Regions from separate parts of the Homo sapiens genome. Here region 2 is linked to region 1. The links come from fine-mapping of genetic effects on gene expression. A gene starts in region 1. The other region holds a variant in brackets. All regions are shown on one strand. Distances are between the middles of the regions.

Region 1 (8,334 bases):
CCACATATGTTAGCTGACCTGTGTGGTCCAGCTCCCACAGCACTGACTGTAGATATTTTATACTACACCACATGCTTCTGCTTCCCACTCTTCCATTCATAAAGAAGAGAACATTTAAAAAGCACACACAGCCAGGCACGGTGGCTCACGCCGATAATTCTAGCCCTTTGGGAGGCTGAGGCAGGAGGATCACTTGAGGACCCTGTCTCTACAAAAACTTAGCCAGGCGTGGTGGCTTGCACGACAGAGCAGACCCTGTCTCAAAGCAAAAAAAAAAAAAAACACACACACACACACACACACACACACATCACACAAATTATTGGAAATACAGCACTAGAGGCTTGAGTAAACAGTACCAGTACTACAAAGAAAATAGAATTTTATGTGAATGACATGTATTTCAGTTCTAAGCAATATATAACTTAGAATGTAATTTCCTAATGCACTTAAAAAATTTAAAAAAAAATTTTTTTTTTTTTAAGAGGCAGGGTTAGGCCAGGCACAGTGGCTCACGCCTGTAATCCTAACACTTTCCGAGGCTGAGGAGGGCGGATCATTTGAGCTCAGGAGTTCAAGACCAGCCTAGGCAACATGGTGAAACCTGTGCCCAGCCCCTAATGCACTTAATTTCTTATTTAAGGCTATTTTAGGAATTCAAGGACAAAAATAATTACCAATATTCATTTTCCTTAGATTATACTTCCCCTCTTCTATTACCTGAAATCTTCGGGTAGTATTCATGAGAGATTTATACATGCTGCTTCATTTTCTCTGTCACCTTTAAAATACTATTTTCTCCAACTCCTCTACTAAACAATCTTTCTAGATGATAATCCACGTTTTACCTACCCAGAGGTGCCAGTGAGCTGGGAGATTTGCGGGAATGCATTTTCCAGGAAACAGAGTGCTAACCCACAACAGGAGGCTTTCAATGCCCTGGGAGATGGTCTGCAATACCAGGACTTTGATCTTGACCTAACCCTCTAAACTTCCTTCCCTCACCTACTAGTCCCTCTTCATCTCTTACCTCTTAATCACTGTTTCAAAAGCATTTATCACTATCCCACAGTATTTATTTATTGCCTGCTCCCCCATAAGATCTCCAGAGAGCAGGATATTTATGTGTCCTGTTGATTCAAACTCAGCTTCCAAAACAGTACCTGGCTCACACAAGATGCTCAATAAATATTTACCGAATGAATTATAACATCTTACAGTACTCAAGAACTAAGACATATTTTATTGATCAACAAACAAACTAGTAAAATCTCAGGGTCCTTACTTGCCATGGTAGAAAAAAAGAGGAGAGACATATCTGCTCCGCAACTCCTGCTAAATGAGATATGAAAAACGGATGGCTAAGTGGAGATTTTGTAAGAGAAACCAACTTTACTAATTTTTGAGACCACTTCTAAAAACAGGAGTTGCCTGCTCCTTAATATACTGCCTTGTTTATCAGCCTACTGAGCGAAATGTCTGTTACCTACTAATGCCTTCCGCCATTATCTCAGCGCTGCATTCTGAACTAACACACTCAGAGTAGTTTGGTGAAGTGTGGTGCTTTCTTTTAAAATAAAGGAGTGAGCAGGTCATGTGATAAGCAAATACAAACCCTGGGGACAAATGATCATTAACAAATATTCTTATGAAGTTGAGCCACTGCCATTTATCTTACCCCAAAGCGCTTGGGCAATTTCATTAGAATGATGGTATCACTCAGTCAAGCAGTGAGTGTTAAGCTGGGATAGAATAAAGTTCCCTTTAAAGGATTATGAGAAGGAATGTGGAAGAAAGATGGGGCAGTGGGTTTGGCACTGAAGAAGAGAAGCGCTCATTTAAAACACTGTTCTTTCCTACATTCCCTAACCCCCGCCCTAGTGTCCCACAGCGCGCTGAGGATGGCTTTCCTTTTGTTGCAAACCAGTGATTTCTGGCATCCCCCTTCCAAATCACAGAAGCCAGCGGGGACTGCACAACTATAATACGTATCCGCATGGTGGAAGGCAGGATAGGGTGGTGGGAAGGGTACGCGGGCTTGGGGGTGAGGCGCTGGGCCAGGGACCGAAGCAAGTTTCCTCATCGGCAAACGGTCATAAAGTTGCCTCCCACCGAGAACGGCCAGAAGAACCAAGCGGATCGCCAGGACCGTGCGCAGAGCCTGCACGTAGCGAACGCTGTGATTCCCTTCTTCCCCTCCCACGGCAAGCGACACCGAAGGTCTGGGGACACCCTTAGGGTTGTGACTGAGGATGGTTGTCGAGTGACTACAGAGCCCAGTAAATAACGCGCATCTCCTCCAGCACCGCGGAGCGCGGAGCCCGGAGCCCGGAGCCCGCCGCGCGCGGGCGCCGGGGAACGCTCGCGTCCACGGCCGGGCCCGCAGCCCAGCCCCCTGGCTCCCGGCTTCCCGCTTCGACAAGGGCATGCCGCGGCCCCCCGGAGCTCGGGGCGCGGGAGCTGGCACCGGAAGCGGGGAGGGCCGGCGGAGCTGGGCGGCCAGGAGTCGGGTACTTACCCCCGGCGGGCGGCGGGCGGCTGAGGTCGCGGCCAGCCGGCTCCAGGCGGCGGCGAAGTCGGGCGGCTGGGCGCGCGGGCTCCGGCAGACGAGGGCAAACAGGATCCCCAGCAGGAAGGCGGCCGCCGCGCAGCTCAGGTACAGGCTGAGCCTGAACAGGACGGAGCTCAGCCCCGCGGCCCCCGCCGCCTCCCCGCTGCCGGGCCCCAGGAAGGAGAGGGCCACGGCGGCGAGTGCGGCCACCGCCACGGGCTTCCACCAGCTCCGGCCGCCCGGGGCCCCCGGCGCCGCCGCTGCTGCTGCCTCCGCGTCCCCCGGGGACTCCGGCCGCCGCTCGCCCCTGAAGCCCGAGACAGGACGGCCGCCGGCGCCTGCGGCCCGCGCGGGGCTGGGGCCGGCGCCGCCACTGTCGGTCGCATCGGGGTGCATGCTGCTTCCTGGGCCGCTAAGGACAGGCACATCTCCTGCCCCCCGGTCCCCCGCCGGCGCTCCGGAGGCAGGGGGAGCCCGCGCTCATGCCTCGCCCGCGGCCCACCGAGGGAGCGGCCCCCGCAGACGCCGCCGGGCCCCTCTCGGCGACCCCTCAGCGCCGCCACCAGGCGCTGGGCCCGTAGCTGCCGGGCCGGGCGCAGCCAGGGAGCCCCACCGTGTTGTGACTGAAGCCTGGCCAGCCTGACGCGGGCGGGGCGGGGCCGCCCTGAAGTGCGTGTCGGGCGGGGCCCGGAGCCACCGCGGCCGCTGAGTGACAGCCGGGAGGCGCCCACCCACAGCGCGGGGGCGGGGTCCGGGCCGGGGCCCCACGGGGAGAGGGCGCGACCCAGCGCGGTGCACACCTCTCTTTCCCACGCTCCCCTCCTCCTCTACAGGATGCCGTCTGTTCATGGAAAATTTTGCTGCAGGTGTCAGCGGCGCTGGTAATTCCTGAGCTCAGGTGATCCCGTAATTCTCCCTCTCCGCTCATCACTGACGAGTAACCTCTTCGCTTTGCTTACAGCCGGCAAACATTTCTGCCTGGTTTTCACTCGCTATTTAAATAGGCAACCGTTCCCGAGACTCCCTGTCACAGTTTCTAACGACCTTCCCTTTCCCACCCTGCCGCCTTAGGGAAGGAATCAGACACGTGCGGTGGAGTAAGTGAAGCCTGCAATTCCTAGCTATGGAAAGGTCCAAAGAAGTCGGCCTGGTGCAACAGGGTGCACGCAGCTGCCCATAATCACTTTGGCTCCACTTCTGGTTTTTGTTTTGTTTTGTTTTGTTTTTTGTTTTTTACCAACTATTCAGTTCAAATGCTATCAGCCACGCAAAGGAACGTGGTCCAAATAATTTTTAGAGTATATATTTGCCTTTTCTTCTGTCATAGTCCCAGCCAGTAATATACAGATAACGCTTGCTAAGTAGATGCCAATATGCTACTTAAACACTGGCAATTACTGCTAAGACTAATAAAGAAGCAGATGTAGCTTTTGCTTTTAGTATCAATTGGTATTCATGGGCATTTCATTCTTTCTTTCTTTCTTTTTTTCTTTTTTTTTGAGACGGAGTCTCTGTTGCCCAGGCTGGAGTGCAGTGGGGCGATCTCGGCTCACTGCAATCTCTGCTTCCTGGGTTCAAGCCATTCTCCTGGCTCAGCCTCCCGAGTAGCTGGGATTACAGGCACGCACCACCACACCTAGCAAATTTTTGTATTTTTAGTAGAGACGGGGTTTCACCATATTAGCCAGGATGGTCTCAATCTCCTGACCTCGTGATCCGCCTGCCTCAGCCTCCCAAAGTGCTGGGATTATAGGTGTAAGCCACCGCGCCCGGCCTCATTTCATTCTTTCTTAAACCTTCTAAGTCAGAAATGAAGAGTGCCTCATGCTAGATGTGACTTTGCCATGCCAAGGGGATGATCAAAATAAGTTACCAGTTTCCTTTCTCCTCCTTTTTTAAGAAAATAGGGGCGGGCACGGTGGCTCACGCCTGTAATCCCTACACTTTCGGAGGCTGAGGCGGGCAGATCATGAAGTTAGGAGTTCAAGACTAGCCTGGCCAACATAGTGAAACTTGAACCCCGGAGGTGGAGGTCGCAGTGAGCCGACATCGCGCCATTGCACTCCAGCTTGGGCAACAGAGTGAGACTTCGTCTCAAAAATAAAATAAAATAAATAAAGCAGTATGATTAATTTTGAAGAAGCCCTTTTGCCTCTAAAATAGTTGTTAATTTTCACCCAATTGGAGCCCCTCAAAGTGTACCCTACCAACCCAAATTATTCAAATAAAGCACAGTGGCTTGTTATCAACAACAACCAAATCTATGTTTTTTGATCATTTACATGCCGAGGACTGTATTCTGAATTCTTTATGATAAATTTAAATTAATTTTTCAATTTTAGCCCTAGCTCACCATAATAGTAACTAACAGCACTTACTGTGTGCCAGATACTATTCTAAGGACCAAACATACTTCATTTAATCTTCCCAGCAACCCCGATGGATACCATTATCTCCATCTACACAGCGGGGAACTGAAGCACAGGAGGTAAGATGACATGCTCAACATTGCAAAGCTAATCAATAACAGAACTAGGATTTAGTTGTTACTCCATGTGGTCCAGCTTCAGAGCTTGTGCATTGAATCGCTATGCCATGATGCTTCCTAAGAATTCTCTGATTTACTCATCTCATATTACAGAAGAGAAAAAAAAAGGTTAAATTCTTGATCCTGATCTGCATTCCATGCTTAAAAGTGGATAGTTGGCCAGGCGTGGTGGCTCAAGCTTGTAATCCCAGCACTTTGGGAAGCCGAGGTGGCTGGATTACCTGAGCTCAGGAGTTTGAGACCAGCCTGGTCAACATGGCAAAACCCCGTCTCTACTAAAAATACAAAAAATTAACCAGGTGTGGTGGTGTGCGCCTGTAGTCCCAGCTACTCGGGAGGCTGAGGCAGGAGAACGGTGTGAACCTGGGAGGCAGAGCTTGCAGTGAGCCGAGATCGCACCACTGCACTCCAGCCTGGGCGACAGCGAGACTCCGTCTCAAAAAAAAAAAAAAAAAAAAAAAAAAGTGTGACTGGTTAAATTTAGGTGTCAATTTGACTGGATTGGGATTACCTGGAAAACTGACAAAGGATTATTTCTGGGTGTTTCCCAAGAAGATTGCCCCTGGGTCAGTGGATTGAGTAGGGAAGATCCACCCTTGATGTGGGCAACCGTCCAATCAGCTGTGGCCCAGAAAGAACAAAAAGGTGGTTTCCTCTGTGCCCTGAAGCTGGGATACACTCTTCTCCCATCCTTGGACATCAGAACTCCAGGCTCTGGCGTTGAGACTCCAGGTTACACTAGCAGCCTCCTGGGTTCTCAGGCCTACTGCCTCAGAGTTATGCCATCCTATTCCCTGGTTCTGAGGCCTTCAGAGTTGGACTGAGCCACACCACCAGCTTTCCAGGCTCTCCAGCCGGCGAAGGGTGTATCATCAGAGTTCTCAGCCTCCATAATCATGTAAGCCAATTCCTCTAATAAATTCCTGCTCATATATCTATCTATATCCTTTTGGTTCTGTCTTTCTGAACCAAGATTAGTACATCTTCCATTCTTTTTTTTTTTTTTTTTTTTTTGAGACAAGAGTTTCGCTCTTGTTACCCAGGCTGGAGTGCAATGGCGCAATCTCGGCTCACTGCAACCTCCGCCTCCCCGGTTCAAGAGATTCTCCTACCTCAGCCTCCCGAGTAGCTGGGATTACAGGCATGCATCAGCATGCCTGGCTAATTTTTTGTATTTTTAGTGAGATGGGGTTCATCGGGCTGGTCTCAACCCCCCGACCTCAGGATCTGTCCACCTTGGCCTCCCAAAGTGCTGGGATTACAGGAGTGAGCCACCATGCCCGGCATACATCTTCCATTCTGTCTGTCCTGCAGACCATCTTAATGTTGTTATGTGGACCAGAGGCGCACAAGTCATGGGCTGAATAATATTCCATTTTATGTATCTACTACATTCTGCTTCATCTGTCTGTTGATAAACAAACACTTGAGTTTTTTCCGCCTTTTGGCTATTCTGCTATGAACATGGGTGCATAAGTATCTGTTTGAGACCCTGCTTTCACTTCCTTTTAGTGTATGTCCAGAAGGGAAATTGCTGGGTCATATAATTCTATGTTCAAGTTTTTCAGAACATGCCATACTATTTTCCACAGTGGCTGAGTATGCTACATTCTCACAAGCAATGCATAAGGGTTTCGATCTTTCCACATTCTTGCCAATCCTTATTTTCTATTTTTTTGACTAAAGCCATCGGTATCTCATTGTGTTTTTGACTTGCATTTCCCTAATTAGTGGTGTTGAGTATCTTTTCATGTGTTTATTGGCCATTGGTATATTTTCTTTGGAGAAATATCTACTCAAGTCCTTTGTAAGATAAACTTTTGACCACAGTTTGTTTATTTATTTAGAGACAGGGGCTTGCTCTGTCGCCCAGGCTGGAGTACAATGGCGTGATCTCAGCTTACTGCAACATTTCCCTCCTGGGTTCAAGCGATTCTTCTGCGTCAGCCTCCTGAGTAGCTGGGATTACAGATGTGCACCACCACACCTGGCTAATTTTTGTATTTTTAGTAGAGACGGAGTTTCACCATGTTGGCCAGGCTGGTCTGGAACTCCTGACCTCAGGTGATCCGCCCACCTCAGCCTCTCAAAGTGCGGAATTACAAACGTGAGCCACCGCGCCGGGCCAACCACAGTTTAACAACTATCCCTGGAAAGTGGTGCCAACACAGTTTTATTAAGCACTTTAAAAGAAAGTGAAATTCTTGCTTTTTTTTTTTTTGAGACACAGTCTTACTCTGTTGCCTAGGTTGGAGTGCAGTGGCACGATCTCGGCTCGCTGCAACCTCCACCTCCGGAGTTCAAGCGATTCTCCTGTCTCAGCCTTCCGAGTAGCTGGGACTACAGGCTCACGTCACCACGCCCAGCTAATTTTTGTATTTTTAGTAGAGACAGTGTTTCACCATATTAGTCAGGCTGGTCTTGAACTCCTCTCAGGGGGCCCCACCCGCCTCGGCCTCCCGAAGTGCTGGGATTACAGGGGTGAGCCACTGCGCCCAGCCAATGCTGTCTTTTAGGCAACAAAAAGAGAATTGATTATACTTTTGGTAATTAAGACCAACAAGTACAAAATGCATTGTGAAGGACGAAAATAGACAATCCTTACTGGAACTCCCCGGGACAGGCAGGGTAAGACCCATATTTCCTACCCTTCTTTGCACTTAGATGTGAACAATATTTATTAACTACTGGATTGTATACCATTGCTGCTATAACAAATTACTACAAATTCAGTAGTTAAAACAACACAGGTGTATTGTCTTACAGTGCTTAAGGTATTAAGTCTAAAATCAAAATTTGCAGGCTCTAGTTCCTTCCTGAGGTTTCAGGAGAGAATCCGTTTCCTCCTTTTGCAGCTTCTACCTGCACTCCTTGGCTCATTGCCTCTGACATCACTCCAACCTCTAGCTTCTGTGCTCACAGCTCCCACTACTGACTTTGAACTTCTTGTCTCCATCTTATAAGGACCTTTGTGATTCCATGGGGTTCACTGGATAATCCTGGTTAATCTTCCCATTTTGATCCTTAATCACATCAGCTAAATCCTGTCTGCCACATAAGGTGACATATTCACGTGTTGTGGGGACTAGGAGGTGCACATTTTTGGGGTGCCATCATCCTACCATACCTGAGAGTTCAACGAGAAGTTATTGTATTCAATATATTCTGCAGAGATCATTTTTACCTTAGATTGTTTTAACTACCCACCTCGTTTACCACTCGGCAAAGGTCTTTC
Region 2 (8,334 bases), 76 kb before region 1:
ATTAATTATGAAATCTCAACTTATTGGAGTCATTTAAATGACCATCAAGATTATGTTTCAAGATAGAAATATTAAATTTCAATATGTGAAAAAAAGTATGTAATCATGTTTAGTTTAAAAACAGAACAGAAACATATACTGAATGATTTTAGCCTTCTAAAAATTATGACTGCAGCTGAATAAAGTTTATACGGGAATACAGAAATACAGACAAAGGTTGTTGTTAGGATGAAATTATATTTACTTCTCTAATACTGTAATAGTATTGTTTTTAATAAATTGAAATATTTAAATGTAAGCCAGAAAAGCTCCTATTTGCCAAAGATCTGACAGGTGGGAGAAGGCCGGGGATCAAGCTGACCTTTCAGATGTGGAACTGAAGAAAACAACCTGGCTCTTACCTTTGTGCCTCTTCAGTTGGGGAAAGCTGCTAATTGTAGTCGCCTGGATTATTTCCACTACAATTTGATACCTGATTTTTAAAAAGAGAAAAGAAAAAGATTTAAGAGGAAGAAAATACTATTTTCAGAAATAACTTTAGACTGTATTTATACTAAACAAATGTAACACAGGAGCTGTGAATCCTGCCCAAGGCTCCATAAAATAATCCGACATAGACCGAGCATCTACAATAGGCCGGGCCCCATGCCACGCGCTAGTCATTCTGAGGCCCTCACGTAAACATCAGGAGCCTCCTCACTTCCACTCTGTTCCCTATACCAGAAGCATAACTACCTGTAGAAACTCTGAGGTTATGCTCAGCCTCCCTCTCCTCCACAATCCTAGGTGAGCAGAGCTAGCTGATTCTACTTCTTACATTGGCACTGTCTAATAAGGTGATCATGAGCTACATGTGGCTATCCAATTAAATTAATAAACGTTTAGTTCCTCAATCACACTAGCCACATTTCAAATGCTCCACGGTACCTGTGGGCTTGTGGACCACACCGGGCGGTGCCAAGTAGAACATTTTCTTCACTGTAGAAAGTTCTACTGGATGGTGCCGTCTTAAATAGTTCTCAGAACTGCCCTCTCCCCTGCAGCCCCACTGCCCTGCCTGAGTGCAGCGCCTCATTGCTTCTCATTTAGAACACGGTCCCAACCCAACAGAATCAAAATATCTGCACCAGGACTCGCATCAGTATTTTTAAAGCTCTCCTGGCAATTCTAAGGCACACGGAGAGCTGAGAAGCATGAGATTAGAGCACCAGCTATATATATGTGTGCCTAAGAAGACCTCCAAGTCAGGAAAAATAAACATAATTCTACATTTTAAGTGCTGAGTACAACCCTGGAGTTGTAGCTATTTTGAGCATAAATTCAATTGGGCTTTACAAATCCAAATTCTTAAGAGTCCTTTAATGGTTACTAAGTATTGCCCTAATCAAAGTGGTTTATCCTGAGTGTTTCTTAGCCCTTAATTATATGAATTAATTAATTTCATCTGCTGGTAATAAAGTTCTTTAACATTAATTCTTACTTTGAACAAAAACCGTGCAGTGTTCTAAGATTTAATGTTACATCTGCTGGCTTTTAGAGCACACAATTACATACATTCTTTTGCTTTTCAACTAAAACCCAGAGGAGAGACAAATTTATCTTAGTCATAGCTACTCATGGACTCCTCACAAATTTGCACCTTATTTTTTCATTTGGATAATATAAACATCAGTGGCTGACTCTCAGGACCTCAGAGCAGGCTGTCAGGAGCAGTGTTGGCATGCCAGTCAGAGATGGTGGCAGACACTGCCGGCTGCCTGCCCAACGTCCAGTCTCCCTTCCTTCCTTGTTAAGTGACCTACAGTTTTATCAGGGAAAGTGACATACCCAGCTAAAAAGACTAGCTTTCTTCCCAGCAGTCAGAGATGGCCAGGTGATACCATTCTAGCCTTGGAGACAGGCAGGAGTCACCGGGTAGGGATTCCAGGAAAGCAGGCTAAAAGCAGCCTCCGCAGAAAAGCCCTTTCCAACTTTAGTCCTCACCCTTCCCTCATTTTTCTGTGTAAAACAAGGATGCAACTGGATAAAGGCACAACAGTACCTTACAATCATGAGGGTAAAAGCCACAGGCCAGGCCGGGCACAGTGGCTCACACTTGTAATCCCAACATTTTAGGAAGCCGAGGGAGGATTGCTTTGAGGCCAGGAGTTCAAGAGCCTAGGCAGTATAGTGAGATCTCATCTCTACAAAAAATTAAAAAGTTGGCTGGGAGTGGTGATGCATGCCGGTAGTCCTAGCTACTATGGAGGCTGAGGCAGAAGGATCAATTGAACCCAGGAGTTCAAAGTCTCAGTGAGCTATGATTGCGCCACTGCCCTCCAGCCTGGATGACAGAGCAAGACCCTGTTTCTTTAAAAAACACATAACAAAACAAAACAAAACAAAACAAACCCCAAAACAGAAAAAGGCCAGGTGTGGTGGCTCATGCCTATAATCCCAATACTTAGGGAGGCTGAGGTGGGAGGATTGCTTGAGCCCAGGAGTTTGAGACCAGCCTGGGAAACAAAGGGAGACCCTGTCTCTACTAAAAATAAAAAAAAAAAATTAGCTGGGCATGGTGGCGCACACCTGTAGTACCAGCTACTTGGGAGCCTGAGGCAGGAGGATCACTTGAGCCTGGGTGGTTGAGGTTGCAGTGAGCTATGATTGTGTTACTGCACTCCAGCCTGGGCAACAGAGCAAGACCCCGTCTCAAAAACACAAAAACAAAACTACAAGCTAAGGATGATGCAGTAAGAAGACGGGAGGAGTTCAGGGTTCCAATTACATCATGAACCATCAAAACAGCCCCTAACTACCAATCTCAGGACATGTGGTGACATGGGGAAAATAAACACCTGCCTCATTTAAGTTGCTGTATGTCAAGCTGTCTTGTGGCCAAATGCCACTCCAACTGATAGAGAGCTTTCTGAGGAAGACTTGACGTGCTTCCACACAGCAATTCCAATCTCAAGTATTTATCATAAGGTAACAGTTTAACAAAAGAAAAAAATCAAAATGAAAACCCAAAGCCCAAACTATCACATACATGTTTGTTGTAGCAAGTTCTACAAAGAAACGCACGAAAATACTCATGGTCAATAATGAGTATGGCCAATGATGCTTTCATTAAACAAACATTTCTTAATCTTTTCTTACGTTCCAGACACACAGAAATGAACACCACCAATATGGTCCTTGCTTTCAGGACATATCAGATTAAACAGAAAGCATCCAGCCAGTAATATTTATAATAATAAAGATTACATGAAAATAGATGTTTATGACAGACTAATTTTTAAAATGAAAAATGGCACATACATTTATGATTGCAGATATGTATCTATGTGTATATATGAGCCAGGGCTACAAGGCAAAATAGAGATGAAATGAATGGCAGTTGTGTTAAAATGGTAGACTTATGAGTCATTTTTAACTTTTTCTAAGCTGTTTTATCTATGTACCTATGTATCTAAGCCTATTCAAGCTAAACTAACCTTCTTTCTTCCATAGTAAGGTTTCCTTACCTTTCCGTTTCTCTACTAGTACCATCATCCTTCTCAAAATCATCTTAGGTATATATACTACTAATAAACATCAGTTTCAAAGCCCCACGGATGGTCCTTTGAATGCCTCTAAATAAGCTTCTTGCTTACACTACCTTCAGCTACCATTGTTTCAGGCTGCCTTCTTTCCTGAGTAGGTCACTGCAATGGCTAAATGGCCTGTCTCCCTGACTTCAATCCTCTCTCCCATCCAAACCATCCTGAGCACCTGTCAACACACCCTCCTATGGGAACACTCACCTCATCTCTCCCTTGTTTACCTCCTGCACCTCCCCAAATGAATAACCCCACATTCCTGCCTACGTTCCCTTCACAACTTGGCACTGGCTCTACTATCCAACAACTTCGTTTTTTTTCTCCCTATGAATGTGAACCTAATTAAGCCAGGCTGGTTTCTATATTGCCCTCTCAAAACTACAGTCTCATGCTTTGTTTCCTGCTGGAAGGCAGTCTTCCTACTTGTCCACCTACCTAGATCTTACATATATTACTTCTTCCCTCAAGTCTTCCCCATCCCTATAATGCACACCAATATCTGTCTTCTCTGAAATCCTGAATGACTTCTGCTCTATAATAGTATCTATTTACTCTTTCATATTGCTGTTTTAAAGAGTCACACTTCCACAAAGAATGCTGTGAACAAAGAAAATGGTGTGCCCAGTCATTTCAAGGCCTAATACACCTTCAAAGAATGTTGACACATTTTCGAGCCTAAGAATGTAGACTGAAAACTACAAAACCATAGTTCTGTGTATAATAAAGATATGCTACTTTTTTCACCCCAACTAGATCAAGAGTCTCTTAAACACAGGAGTTCTGTCTTATATTCTCCTATAGTACCTAGCTTGGCACTAAACATATGGTAGGCACTCAATAGATATTAATGAGCTAAATTAACAAGAGTCAACATTTCTAACACTTAACAGGTAAAAATAATATTCTGAACAATTTATTCTTTTGATATTCTTTGTGATTCATGCTTTGGAACAAATGAGTCATCAAGGGTACCAAAGAAAATACACACCATCTGACTAAAGAGTTAAAGATTTTTTTAATGAAACCATAAAATTATAATGTAATACCAGCAAACATTCATAGATTGTACTGGGTACCTGTTTAGATATTTTAATTTACATTATCTCACTTAATCCTCATAATAAGGTGCCAGAATTATGTCCACATTACAGAGAAGGAAATTAGAATTCAGATGATTATGAGATCTATACAAGGTCTCATTGCTTTTAAGTCCTAGAGACAGAATGACAATCTAGGGCTGCCTGTCTTCTAAAGCTCATGCTCTAACCATTTTTCTGCTACTCTAAAATACAATATAGGTTAATACTTATCTTCTCTAGGGTTTTTCTAAGTACGTAAGTATGGCCAATGCCAGATCATCTTTCCAGCTTTACTGCCTTCTATATCCCTCCTGCATACTGTTTCTGCCAAACCAGACCATACGTGATACCATGAACACACTCCAGGTCTTTCCTGACTCCCTTCTCAGTAATATTTCTCCTTCTCCTTAACAGTACTCCTGTTTCTTCCTGC[A/G]CACCATCACTTCCCCTTATCTGCTGAAATCCTGTTAACTCTTATTAAACACTCCATGCATGGCCATTCCTCTCTGAAGCTTTCTTAAGAGTTCTCTGCTATAGAATAAAATATTTGCTCCTACCCACTTCCTTGGTGCTTTACACTCCACTTCCAGCCTTAGGATCTTGCTTCCTACTTAGCTACTTATAGTCACATGGGTCTCCTGTGAGGAACTGCAAACACTTGACAGCAGGGGGTGGAATCCAAGGAGTGTAACCAGTTCATCTTAGTACTCACCAGACCTTCTGACACAGCACTTTGCACATAGTGGGCATCTGAAGATGATTACTGAATTTGTTTAATTCACTGTTACTGGATACCGAGAGGAAATGATTGACTTTCTCATTCTTGTTTTTTTCTCAACAAAACTATACAATATATACATCCAAACACATCCAAATGCTGGCTATCCATGAGGACACGGGGACACGGGCTTCCAGAGTTACCTGGCACTCACTCGGTTTTCTTTCTCCAGAGGAGGATACGACTTTGCAAGTGCTGAGTTCGGTTCAAGAATCAGGAGGGCTGATGTTTGTACGCTTTCCCTTGATCAAAAGTGCACAGATTGTTGGTATATGTTTTGCAAAATGATAATGTAAAGTCAAGTATTAGGGAGGAGGGGCATAACAAGAATTCAGCTGCTTTCCAACTCTGGCAAGATCCTACCTACAGTATCCTTTGTCCCAGTGACAAGGAAAAGCCACACAAAGATAACTGCCATCTGCTCCTCAGAGTGGCCACCTCATCTCTCTTTGGTATTTTACAAGTGGCTAAATAAAAAGAGCAAGTTTGTGTTTCTGAACACGTCCCAACAATCTCAAACTCACTGAAATGCTACGCAGCACTTCAAAGTCATCACCTTAGATAGTTACAGATTTGAGGCCAGGCAGGGTGGCTCATGCCTGTAATCCCAGCACTTTGGGAGGCTGAGGTGGGTAGATCACTTGAGGTCAGGAGTTCAAGACCAGCCTGGCCAACATGGTGAAACTCTGTCTTTACTAAAAATACTAAATAAATAAATAAGCTGGACATGGTGGCGGGTGCCTGCAATCCCAGCTACTCGGGAGGCTGAGGCAGGGGAATCGCTTGAACTCGGGAGGTGGAGGTTGCAGTGAGCTGAGATTCCGCCGTTGCACTCCAGCCTGTCCGGACATGCACATGCTGTAATTTCATGGCAGAGTCAAAGGCTGGCCAAACCTTAGTCTCAGGTATGCGATGTGATAAATGGTTTAAAACACTGTTTTATAAAAATTAGCAAGATTATGGAGAATACCATACACATTACGAGTGCTTATGAAAAACCAAAGAATTTTTATTTTTATTTATTTATTTTGAGATGGAGTCTCGCTCTGTTGCCCAGACTGGAGTGCAATGGTGCAATCTCGACTCACTGCAACTTCCACCTCCCAGGTTCAAGCGATTCTCATGTCTCAGCCTCTGGAATAGCTGGGATTACAGGTGCGCACGACCATACCCGGCTAATTTTTGTATTTTTCGTAGAGATGACGTTTCACCATGTTGTCCAGGCTGGTCTTGAACTCCTGACCTCAAGTGATCTGCCCGCCTCAGCCTCCCAAAGTGCTGGGATTTCAGGCATGAACCACCGCACCCAGCTTAAAGAATTTTATAAGAATGTTTTCAGAGTTGCCACAGGCTAGGAATGTTTTTGTTAGAGGGACTTCAGTTATAGAATTTGTGAAGAAATAAAGCCATGATGCTTTTAGCCAGCTAAGCTGAAGTTTTTTCCCATCCATGGCACTACTAAAAGGGACTGCTGGATAAATGAGAAAGTGTATCAGAGTAGTAAAGAATGTGAGCTCTCACAGTGGATGGCCTGTGTTCAAATCCTGTTTCTAACACACACTATGTCATCCTGGGAAAATGATTTAAGCTTTCTAAAACTAAAGCATCATCATTTATAGAAAAGAGTAATAAGAGTAATTTTTCTTTATAGGGTTGTTATACACATTAAATTAGATAATACCCTTAAAAATCTTAAAACACAGTCTGCCCCGCAGTGAGAGTTCAATAAATGTTCATTATTATTCTTCCTTAACACAGTTACTGAGTCTTTAGATATGTACTATCTAGGGAAATGGTACGTATACATGTTTGTTAAATATGTATAAATTTGAAGCAGCCTTATTTTTTCCTGATTACAGAGCATTTTAGCCCAATCAACCTGAGACCACCAAGATCACTCTAGTCCAACAAAATCAGGTCAACTGACCCACATAAAGAGCAAGAGACAGTGTAGCAGTGGAAGCTGTGGGGCGTCTCTCCAAACGAGGGAAAAGGTAACATTACTATGGGATTCTAGGGAACAGTGGAGTGAAGGTGAAATTTAAATGAAGCAGCATTTTGATAGGCCCAAGACAGGGCTGTGTAAAGCGGTCAATGTTGGGTGGATCCAGGGTCTCGTTTCCTGAAAGCTGCAAGATAGATATACTGAGTCCAGAAACCCCATAACTGCGGCTCTGCATCTGGGTCGTAAATCAAAGCTGCTTCTTTGTGTCAAGCTGACTTAGATCACCCAGGCAAAAGTAGAATCTGTCATTCTTACTGACATAATTCCAAACAGGAACTGGCAGTTGAAGATTTTTGAAAACAAAGTTTCTCAGTGAACACGAAAGCACAAAGAAGGGTATCATTATGACATTTTACTGCCATGGCAGGTACTTAGGAGAAATATTGTTTCCTGTTTACTTTGTAGGTGGCTTTAGTGTCTGTTATACCAGCCTGATAAATGGCTGGGCAGATTTTACTTTCTCAGTCTGCACCAGTTTTTACTTTCTCTAAAGTAGCATATGTTCATTGAAGAAAATGAGAAAATATACAAAGCACAACATTCAAAGTTAACCACTATTAACATTTGGACTATCTTTATAACCTTTTTCTATGCAAACATAATTTTTTTGTTTTATAAAACTGGGTTTATGCTATACATATTGCCTTAGAGTGTTTTTTATTAATTTATAATTAATATTTTCCAGCACAATTAAATATGCTAATGCTACACCATTACCAATATATGGTATTCCACTGTATAGATACACCAAAAATCTTTTTAACCAAACCCTTTTTGTTAGGCATTTTGGTTATTACAAGCTTTTCTCTACTTAAATAAAACTGCAGCATGGTGTGGTGGCTCACGTCTGTAATTCCAATACTTTGGGAGGCCAAGGTCGGTGGATAGTTT

The links.
Region 2: its variant is fine-mapped to the expression of SNX25 in whole blood (INTERVAL, PIP above 0.99).

The regions. Positions count from the first base shown.
Region 1 is chr4:185,204,440-185,212,773 of GRCh38, reverse strand. It overlaps SNX25 (sorting nexin 25), which reads right to left and starts at 3,176. Exons shown (of 19, transcript NM_001378034.2): 1 at 2,519-3,176. The coding sequence starts at 2,947. It also overlaps a transcript of CFAP97 not described here. RefSeq lists silencers at 2,368-2,557, 2,628-2,787, 2,898-3,477 and enhancers at 7,622-7,711, 7,822-7,931.
Region 2 is chr4:185,280,150-185,288,483 of GRCh38, reverse strand. SNX25 (sorting nexin 25) reads right to left here. Exons shown (of 19, transcript NM_001378034.2): 6 at 402-472. Among named protein-coding and RNA genes, the nearest start is that of SNX25, 75 kb to the right of the region's middle. The variant A/G (reference allele first, on the strand shown) is at 5,094.